Linked DNA regions of Homo sapiens: region 2 is linked to region 1. Evidence: fine-mapped expression QTL. A gene starts in region 1. The other region holds a variant in brackets. All regions are shown on one strand. Distances are from middle to middle. Region 1 holds the start of TGFBR1 (transforming growth factor beta receptor 1). Region 2 overlaps COL15A1 (collagen type XV alpha 1 chain).

What was found. PIP is the estimated chance that this variant, and not a neighbour inherited with it, causes the effect.
Region 2: its variant is the best candidate, but not a certain one, in a credible set for the expression of TGFBR1 in whole blood (TOPMed, PIP 0.82).

Annotation. Positions count from the first base shown.
Region 1 is chr9:99,102,525-99,107,898 of GRCh38, forward strand. It overlaps TGFBR1 (transforming growth factor beta receptor 1), which reads left to right and starts at 2,589. Exons shown (of 9, transcript NM_004612.4): 1 at 2,589-2,778. The coding sequence starts at 2,682. RefSeq lists silencers at 2,117-2,716, 2,807-3,316.
Region 2 is chr9:99,042,131-99,047,504 of GRCh38, forward strand. It overlaps COL15A1 (collagen type XV alpha 1 chain), which reads left to right. Exons shown (of 42, transcript NM_001855.5): 25 at 2,438-2,506; 26 at 2,605-2,640. Among named protein-coding and RNA genes, the nearest start is that of TGFBR1, 60 kb to the right of the region's middle. The variant C/T (reference allele first, on the strand shown) is at 3,051.

The DNA of each region.
Region 1 (5,374 bases):
TGTAAAGACTGAAGGGAATTAACATTTATGACAGATTCCTTAATGTGCAATAGCTCATTTAGACCTCACAACAGTATCTCCCTTTACCCTGGGGGATGCTAAATCTCAAAGCAGTCAAATAGTGTTCCCAGACCCACATCTAGTGAGTGGCAGCCAGAATTTCAAGTCGGGTCTGTAGGCCTCCAAAGCCAGAGGCTTCTTTCTACTGCCCATCCAACCTTTCTCAAAAGGCAAATAAGGTCATGCATTTTTATTTACTGAATTTTAAGTAAAGCAGTGTCTTTTGAAGCGGGCCCAGTGCCACTTGCAGCAGAATCACCTGGGATGTCTATTACAAATGCAGATTCCTGAACCTTCTCCACATGAACTGAAGCAGACTTGCTAGGGCCGAGGGAGACCCAGGAATCTGTATTATTACAAGCTCTCCAGGTAATTGGAGAGACTTTACAATTTGGGAACCATGATTTTAAACTAATAATTTAGTGTTCCATTCTAGTGTAGTTTATTTATGGATCTGTGGCTCATGGAAATTTCCTCCTAGTATCAGGAAGATACAACTTAAAAATAGTCTGTTTTTCCTTCCTATTGTATCCACTGAATTCCACGGAAAATGTTAAGGAACTGGAGGTGTGATTAACACTGATTAATCTAGGCTCCGTACGTCAAAGGCACAGACTGACATGAACATACATGCTGATTAGAATCATACAGAGCTGGAAGGGGATGGGCAAAGAAATGGCATTAGCTAAATATTTACTATGTTCCAGACACTGTACCAGACACATTACGTCATTTAAGGGGCCCAAGACAAGTGATTCAATCCCTTTTATTTATAAACGGGGTAGGTACTATTATTATTTACATTTTAGAGATGAAGAAGCTAATGGCCAGAGAAAAACAGTCACTTTCTGAGATCATTCATTCATTCATACAATAAAAATCTCATTAGCTCTTATCTTATGAAAGACATTGCAAATAGAGCAGCAAAAAGGCAGTCTAGGGACCTCAGGTGGCACAAAGTCCACCAAATCTCCATTGAAGAAACTGGAACTGAGAGGGCAAATTGGGACTGGAGCCTGCCAGAAGCCATCTCTCTGGAATCCCTCAGCCTGAGCAAGAGGGGAGTTTGCTGCTGAGGCTGCTGGAGCTGCGGTGTAGAGCAAGTTGCAGGCCTCTGAGCCTGTTGGAGGTTCAGAAAGGTTAGCTGACTTGCTTAAGTAAGTGTCCTAGACAGGAGGGAGAAAGCGCGCGGGTCTCAGATCCCAGCTCCAATATCCACGCCTTTTCCCTTTTCATCTCCCGGAAGGAAGCCTTCACAGGTGGGGAAAATGCTCACCCAGTGACTCTAAAGTAGTGCACAAATTGGCATTAATCAGAACCATTCTGATTCCTGCTATCAAGGTTTATTTAATTCTAAGCTCAAATGACACAGAAAATAAAATTTCCTCCTTAAAAGGTTCTGCGGAAAAATATTCTCTGTTCTACGTAACAGCCTCCTTGGCTGTGTTTGTGTCTGAAGAAAGGACTAGTCTGACAGGAAGAATTACAAATCTGGAGCTCATTTTGGCGTCGCAGAGGGAAGGTGGGTGGAGCGTCTCGCAGTAAATTAGGAATTCAGAATGAAAACGTAGAGTTTATTTGGGTTTTTAGTGACACCTCAGGATTATTATACAGCAGTGTCAGACACAGCTCAAAGTAATGATGACTGCTCCCCCTCCGCCCCGCGGGAGCTGGGTGCTAAGAAGGGGGAACCCCTCCTTTGAGGGGTTGGGGTGGGGATCCTCCCTTTCCAACCTGGATCGGGAAGGGGTTTGAGAGGAGTGCGGCTTGGATCCCCATCCTGGATCTGTGCTGGAGGGAGGCGGGAGGCTATTTGGGGGTGTGTTTGGGCTCAGGATCTGGGTCTGACGCTGGGATCTGAGGACTTTCTGGGTTTGGAACTGGGTGGGGGAGCTGGGTTTGGGGTGACCGCTGGGAGCAGGAGGAAATAGGAGAGTGAGTCGCATGTGAAGGGCACTGAGGAGGGATCTTCGGGGGAATGCTGAAGTTGATGCGTGGACTTGGAGAGGGGAAGTTGAAGTGGATGCAGGGGCCTGGCGCTGCAGCGGATCTGGGTGGCATGTGCTGGGATTGCCAATGCGGAGCTGTGAATGGGGTCAGGGTGGGGCTGAGGCAGTACCAGATCTTCCGCGCCTAGAGGAGGTTAGAAGAAAAGAGCGTCGAACGGCCACAGCCTTTTTCCGAAAGAGACTCACACAGACACACCCATCGCTCTACCCGGCCCTCCGGGGCTAGCGGCTGAGCGGTGCTGGGGCTGGCAGACCCCGCCCCCACGCGGCCTCTCGGAGCCGGGAGCCGATCGGGCCGGGGCTGGGGTCTGGCGGCCCAGCCCCCGGGGAGCGTGGGGCGTGGCCAGAAACCGGCGCTCGCGGCTGCGGATTGGCTGCCTGGCGGGCCCGCAGGCGGGGCTCCCGGCTGGGTCCCGCTTGGCAGCTCGCGGCGGCGGGGAGGCGGGGCCGGCGGGAGCCCGGCAGCCAATGGACGCGCGTCCTCCGAGCAGTTACAAAGGGCCGGAGCGAGGCCGCCGCGGCGGCTAGGGAGGTGGGGCGAGGCGAGGTTTGCTGGGGTGAGGCAGCGGCGCGGCCGGGCCGGGCCGGGCCACAGGCGGTGGCGGCGGGACCATGGAGGCGGCGGTCGCTGCTCCGCGTCCCCGGCTGCTCCTCCTCGTGCTGGCGGCGGCGGCGGCGGCGGCGGCGGCGCTGCTCCCGGGGGCGACGGGTGAGCGGCGGCGCGGCGGGCGGGCGACTGCGGGGCGCGCGGGCCGGACCCGGCCTCTGGCTCGCTCCTGCTCTTTCTCAAACATGGCGCGGGGCCGGGGGCGCAGGTGGCGGCGCCGGGGCCCGGGCCGGGCTCTCGTGGCGCCGCGCGGCTCGGCGGCTGCCGGGCGAACCGCAAGCGGGGAGCGGAGGCGGGGCAGGGGCGTGTGTCCGGGCGCGGGCGGACGTGTCCGGCTGCCCGAGGCCGCCCCGCTCGGGACTCCCCGGGGAGGTGGAGTCGGGCGGAGTCGTCCGAGGTCCGGGGCTGCCCTCTGGGGTGTGAGTGGGCGAGGGCCAGGGGCGGAGAGTGCGAGGCCGGCGGGGACTGGCAGAGCCGTGGCTGCCCGCCGCCGCCCCCTGGGCACGGCGTGACCTTGTTCTGGGGACCCCCGCCCCAAGAGGGTCCGTGCCAGAGGCTGCCGAACCCGGGGCGGGGTTTGAGGTTGGGGTGGAAGGCGGCTCCCGGGCGGGGTGTGAGCTCCGAGCCTCTAGGGCTTCGTCCAGTGGGAGTCGGGGGCGACGTGTGGTGAGACCCCTGGGTCCGCAGGCCGCCCTGACTCCCGCCCGGCTCGACCCGAGCCGACCCTGCTGGAAGGGGCTGCTCCTCCAGCCAGGGGGGCTTTGTGTGAGAAGAAGGAAGCGCGGAGATGCGCGGAATGTTTCTTCTTTCGTGCGTCTGGGGAGTGTTGAAGTGAGTCCAGTAACCAGACGGCTACGGATTGTTTTCATAGTGGAAACTTGAACGTTTGCTCATTCTGCGGGTTTTGGAAATTTTGGGAACGACTGTGAATTGATTAAACGCTTTTTATTTCCTCGAAGGAACATCACTCACGTTGTTCCTTTTCTTGAGTGACAGTTAATAGTTTGATTCAGACATCTGTATAGCTGGTTTTCAAGGAAGACTGTTGGCTGGATTTTTCAAAATAGTAAATCAGGTTGGGGTAGGTGGTTGGTATCCACAAAGGGATGAGTGAAAAACTTCGTTAGCAGCTGAACTGAGACACTAGAAGCTAAAATACACAGCCTCAGTGTTAGCAACTAAAATGCAGTGAAAGTACATTTCTGTTTCTGAAACTGGACAAAAGATGTTGAAATTTTTTTAAAAAATCAAGACTGACGGTGACGATTATAATCAGTCCTAATAGCTACCGTCTATGTATTGTGCATTACTACGATGTAAATGCATACACTATTGTATAATTACATTATTTAATCACCACAAGTAAACTCCCAGGAGTAGTGGCATTTGCCCCACTTTACAGATGTGCAAAGTGGGGTACAGACACGTTAAGTACCCAATAACTTAAGTGCTAAAGCTAGGATTTTCACTCAGATCTCAGTTTCCCAAACCTGTATGTCATATATATATATAAATATGTATACATCATACTATCTGGCGTAGCCCATTTTTCTTCTTCAGTCGTCTGATGAGCAATTGGTCTTTATTATCCACTTTGGATTCTGTCCTCATGATTTGAGTATCAGATAGGCTTCATTCCGACTCTTAGCACATTGTTGAGTCCCTTCACGTGGGCCTGCATTAGAGGAAACAATGGATTTTTGACATTGGCCTAGGGAGGAAGGCAGGATAACTGTGTGGACATTTGGGAGAATCAGTATAGTTAGGCATGAAACACAGGTAACATTTCCACACCGCTATTAACTTGAATAACACAGTGCACTCTTTTCCACCAGAAGTAGCACAAGAAGCGTTCATGTATTCAAGTAACAGTAGTGGACTTAGTTGAAGACACAGAACATTGCTCAGTCCATGTCCTGGAGGAGTTTACAGTCTCCATGGTATGCACAAAATACAAAGCTGTCCAGGTGCTTATTACTCTAAGCCCAGACTGCCTCAGCTTGTCTGCCTCCCCTGTTGGTTATGATGATGCCTCAGTCCACCCTTAAAAAACATTCTGAAAAAGGTCAAATGCTTTTTATTTCCTCTGTAACTTGGCTTCCCTTTTAAAGACTTGCACCTTTTTATGTTCTGAGTATGTTTTAATGTTCTCTGCCCAACTTCTGTCTCCAACATAGGTTTCTCTAGGGAAATTGATTCCTTATCCCTAGTGCACAGTTTAGTACCACTATGTCTATATGTATATCCCATCTGAGAATGCTATTTGCTTCCTTTCTGCCATTTCATAACTTTTTTTCTTTGAAAACGTGCCCCCAATCCAACTCTTCTATGAATGCCTCTTGAATGTCTCCTCCTTTCTTGGTATGCAGCCTTCAGCTTAATCCTGCCTGTTATCCTCCAAATCTAGTTGCTTTCCCATGTTTTTCTCATCTAGGCTTTTCTATGGCTACTGCCAAACTAATCTTCCTCAGCCTTCCCCGTGAAGGTTTATAAGATTTCCCATTTGTATTCAGCACTTAGAACAACACTTAGCAGCTTATGATTGGGGCCATCTCTGAGTATCCTACCAGGGATCTCATTTCTCATTACTGCAGACCTTCGAGCAATTTCTCTTTCTCACTGACTCCTGACTGTTCAGCCTTTTCACTACACATTTAGTTTTGCCCCTTTTTTTGGGAGTGCGAGAAGTTCTCAGCCC
Region 2 (5,374 bases), 60 kb before region 1:
GTGAGATTGGGCGCTGGAATTTGCTAAACGTTTCAGATTGGCTGAAAATAGCTATTAACTTTTCTCTTCTTTGAGATACAATTCACATGCCATAAAATTCACCCCTTTAAATTGTACAATTCAGTGATTTTTGGTGGGCTCATAAGGTTGTACAACCTCATGAACCACTCTGTAATTCTAGAACATTTTCATCATACCAGAAAGAAACCCCATACTTATTAGCGGTCACTCTCCAGCTGTTAACTTTTTTAATCTCCAGGTTCTCTATGAGACGAGAAGGTACGAAGTGGGTAGTGAAATTGATTTTTACCATAATTTGGAAAGAGAACTCAACTCAACACTCCTTTGTTCTCACACACACTGTGCTTTGTCTAACCACCTGCTGGGCATCCCCCTTAGAACATGCACTGCCTGAGGACAGGCATCCTGCCAGCTTCTTTTCCATAGCTCCAATACTAATATGGGGCCTGGTATACAAATGGTACTGAATACACTTGTTGGACGAAAGCATGTATAATTAATGAGTAGAACAAATGTTAATATTTATAAATTATAAATTGAGCATTCTGCAGTTGAACAACAGTCTTGGTCCAAAGTCTCTGGAATAAATACTTAGCACACAGAACACTTCCTGAGAACTCCCAGGGTACCAAACCTATTGTTGTGCTTGTATTCTTTTGTGTTTGCCTCTTAGAATTAACTTTCCAGTTGGTTTTTATAGATAAGGGGGAGAGTGACGTCCATAAACAGATTAATATATTCACTCGTCCATGTATATACTCATCCATCTTTCGTCCACTGACCCGTGTGGTGTGCCAGGCAGTTTCCTGTGCTAGGCGTAGGGATATAGAAATAAGATGAGGAAGAGATATGCAAAGAGCTAACAGAGCACATGCTTACAGCTGGAATGGAGCTCTGTGCAAAGCCAGTGGGAGCACTGTGCAACCCCCTGAGCCTGCCATGGGGAGTCAAGGAGGGTGGGTGTGCTCTGTGGGATGGGGGAACTCCTCTCGTTCTTCTCTCCCCCCATCATTCTATAATATAATGGTCTCCAAGGAGGAGAGGGCCTCCAATATCTAGTGGGCCACTGCTCCAGGGCATGGAGGGCTCGGTATGCTGGGTGAAGGTTTGGCATCACGTGGGGATGTGTCTTGGGATGCTTTTCCTGCCACAGGCCTGTGGAGATGGACCAGGGCTGGCCAGCTCAGGCTTGGGAGGAGGCCCAGGGAAGCAAGAGCACCTCTTGCTTTAAACACTCTGTTTAAACACTCTGTTTCCTATGTGGTAAGGTCAGATGGATCTAGAGGGACGGACATGACATCCCCGCCCTAACCTCCTGCCACCTTGAATGACTGGTCCAGGCAGCCGGGCAGTTCTGCTCTGGCCATTGCAGTGAACGTGCTTTCTCTCACTCTGCCTCTAATGCTTTTGTGCTTGCTTCTTCTCCCTGCTGGCGTGCTCAGGACTACCTTTCCTCATCAGTGGAGTGGTAAGATCTAAATACCAGGTGTGGGCTTAGGGGGATGGAAGAAAGAGGCTGCTCTGCTTGCTTTGATGCTACTGTCCTAGCTACTCCCAGCCCCATTGAAAAGAGACTTCTGTGTGGCTCAGCCCTGCTCCCCAGGGGCCAGCATTGAAGTTTAGGGCCAAAGCCTCAGAGTCAGATAGAAGGTTTCTGCACCCAGTCTTGTTCTCTTGACAATCATCTTCTCAGCAGCCTCTAGCATAGTAGATGTCTCTGCTGAGGACAGGATTGGGGTCAGGATCCTGTGTTCTTGCCACCAGTCTACCCATCACTCATTCCTAATGTCTGGGATAGCTTTGCCTAACTAAGTAAGTGTTTGCACAGGAGCTTAGAGTTTGGAGGCAACGTTGCATATGGAGACATAAGGCCTCCATGTTGACAGAGGCCTCTAGTTTTTATACCGTCATCTCTTTCCTAATTTCAGGTGTTTTAACAAGAATAAGTATTCTTGGTGGGAACAGATCTCAGGTTGAGTTGCTAGGAAAGCAAGCTGTCAAATACATTGGGAGCCAGAGCTTCCTTGAGGGCACCATGTGGCAGGAGATAGACAGGACCACACTGGGGCTGGATCCTGGAGGGTTGAGAGTGAGGATGCAAATCTGTTATCAGTGGGAGCCTGAAGGGGCATGGAAGACAGGACTGTCCTGTGCCTTAGGACGGTAACTCTGATGGTGCATAGAGGGAATGGCTGAGAGAACATTCATTCATTTAGGAGGCTGTTGCAATACTCTAGTACGAGGTAATTTTGGAGCAGTGGGGTTTCAAGTAGGATGAAGGCAAGAGAAATAAATCATGGCTGCAGGACTCAGAGGTCTCTGTACAAGGTGGCAAGGAGGAGTCTCTGTACAAAACTCTCTGGACAAGGTGGCAAGGAGGAGTCCTGACTTCATTGAGATGTTCTCTGAATTGCAGGGCGAGAAGGGAGAGCCGGGTGCCATCCTGACAGAGGACATTCCTCTGGAAAGGCTGATGGGGAAAAAGGTAATTATGTCACCAGACCCTGCAGGCACATATCTGCCCCAGCTTTGCATCTTTGTTTCTGTCCCAAACAGTGACAAGTATATATCTTCCTGTTTTAGGGTGAACCTGGAATGCATGGAGCCCCAGGACCAATGGTAAGTCAGAGCGTCTCTCAGCTGGATCTGGGCTGGGGTTTGAAGCATTTTTCATACTTTGATTTGGTTAGATTTAGTTGTCCCGGTTATGAAAATTCAAAGATGTGGCAAAGATGTGCAAAATGTGCATATACTAGGGTAAGGCTGACTACAATTAAATAAACTTTTCAGTGATTTAACACAATAGCAGCTTATTTCTCGCTCTTGCAAATTCCACTGTGGTTGTTCTCAGCTTGGCATCTCTCCTCCAAGAAGTGACTCAGGGATCCAGGATGCTTCCATTCTGTGATTCTGCCATCTTGTGGATTCAAGGTCGCACAGGAGCTAGCAGGCTGAAGTTGGGGAGGGGGAAGAGATTGTGAAAGATAATAAACATCACTTCTGGCACATTCTGTAAGCCAAAACCCAGA[C/T]GCTTGTGGCCTCAAAATGTAGTTTAGCTGTGTGTCCAGGAAGGAGAGGTGCACTTGCAGTTATACCACAGAACTTGCCAGCTAAAGATGACCAATTTCCCAGGAAACCCTCAAAGGAACCCCACAAAACCTCTCTGGGATTTTTGATTCTGGTTGTGAATATGCCACTCATTTGCTGTGAGACCTTGTGCAAGCCCTCTTCTCTCTCTGGGCTCCTGTTTTCCCATCTGCACATTGAAGAGACTGAATTAGTACTAAATGATATTAGGGCCCTTCTGGCCTTACGGCTCTGGGAATCCATAACCCATCTGGGCTTCTGAGCAGCTCTTGCCATTTCTCTCAAGGGCGAACCCTAAACTTACTTCCCTGTGTAGAACATTCTCTATGGGTCAGACTGTACTGATGCTTCACATAGGTCATCTCATTTCATCTTCACAACCCCAAGAAGTGACTCTCAGAATCCCCATTTTATAGATGAGGAAACTAAGGCCCAAGGAGGTTAAGTAACCTGCCCATGTGACACAGCTTGTAAGTGGCAGAGTGGGGATTTGAGGCCAGCCAGTCAGGCTTTAGGTCCAGTCTCTTCTCAGATGAACCTCACTGCCTCTAATGAACATTTGAAACATTGAACATTTGAAACATTTTGGGCTAGAGAATTGTATACAGGTTTGTTTGGTTGAAGTTGGATCTCAGGTGTGGGGAGAAAGGACCTCACATTTCTGTAACAGACTTGTATCCTTGAAGAATGGCCTGTAACTTTCGAGGTGAATCCTTCAAAAGACCTTCTGAGGCCTTTGGTCCCTGAAGTTAAGAAGAGTGGACACCCAAAGTCAGGTAGCTAAGACAGACTGAGAGATTCTTGTATTAACTACTGGTTAACCACCTACTAACCTCCAATACTGTGGAAAATACAAATAGTTAGTGGTGGGGGTCAGCAGGCTGCTGCAGATGCCATGGCGGTGGTTCCTACTGAAGCCCAGCTTGGACACAGCTTGCCAAACACAGGCAGTAAGTGGCACCTTCTTCTAATTTGCATGAAGGTGCTGTGTGGGCTAGCTGTGGCCCTAGTGACCAGTGTAGCTTATAACGCCTTCTCAAATTCACTGGTGTCCTGTTACACAAAGTGTAGACCATGCACCAGCATCACTGACATCACTTGGGAGCTTCTTAGAACTGTAGAACCTCAGGCCCCACCCAAGACATACTGGATCTGCATTTTTAACAAGATCCAGGTGATTCTTAACACACATTGATGTTTGGGAAGTGTATTAGTCCATTCTCACGCTGCTATGAAGAAATACCAAGACTAGATAATTTACAAAGAAAAGAGGTTTAATTGACTCCTAGTTCCGCATGGCTAGGAGGCCTTAGGAAACTTACAATTGTGGTGGGAGGCATCTCATCACAGGGCAGCAGGAGAGAGAATAAGTGCCAGCAGGGGAAATGCCAGACACTTACAAAACCATCAGAGCTAGGGAGAACTCATTCACTGTTATGAGAACAGCATGGGGAAATCTGCCTCCATGATTCGATTACCTCCCACCACGTCCCTCCCATGACATGCGGGGGTTGTGGAATTACAATTCAAGAAGAGATTTGGGTGGGCACACAAAGCCAAACCATATCAGGAAGTGTTGCACTAGAACATACCAACCAAGTGGCCTGTGCCCTGTCAACCCCATCTGTCTTTGCTTTTCTTTCCCTAAGAGTAATACAGACTGGGTACTTTACGTACTGACCCTGTTTCAACTCAGTTTTTGTTTGTCATTTTTCAGAGCATGGCTATGTATGTTTATGGTAGGATGAAAAGGGACTTGGAGTGCCCCAGGCTTAAATCAGTCATTCTTCTGGGAGACACAGCAGACCCAGCTACAGGGTTGGAAAGGCGCAGACTGAGGGTAGAATTTGTTCTAGGAAGACATACATCATCAGTGGTGTTGTCTGTCAACCAAGTAGTTTACATCCCAGACATTAGAAGGCAGGAGGGTTCCTGAAGGTTGCAACAGAACAGTGGTTCTAGAAGCCTGTGGTCCTGGAAAGCCAGCACTGAAATAGGGTCCATGGTCTGGAACTCAGCTGGATGACTGGGGTGTCAGACCAAGACTCTGGTTCCTAGGGGCAGGTTAGAGCAAGGAAGGAACCAAATCCTAGAGTGGGTTATCAGGCCAGGCTGGCCTGAGGGGCGAGGCAGGGCTGCGTTATTCAGAATGGGGGATGCGATAAGCCCTGGGACATAAGACCTAGGGCAGAGGTCCATGTTCTGGGCTGGCCCAGCACCTGGCTACCAGGGAGCTGAGGCCCTGAGCTACTGACCTCTTGCTCCT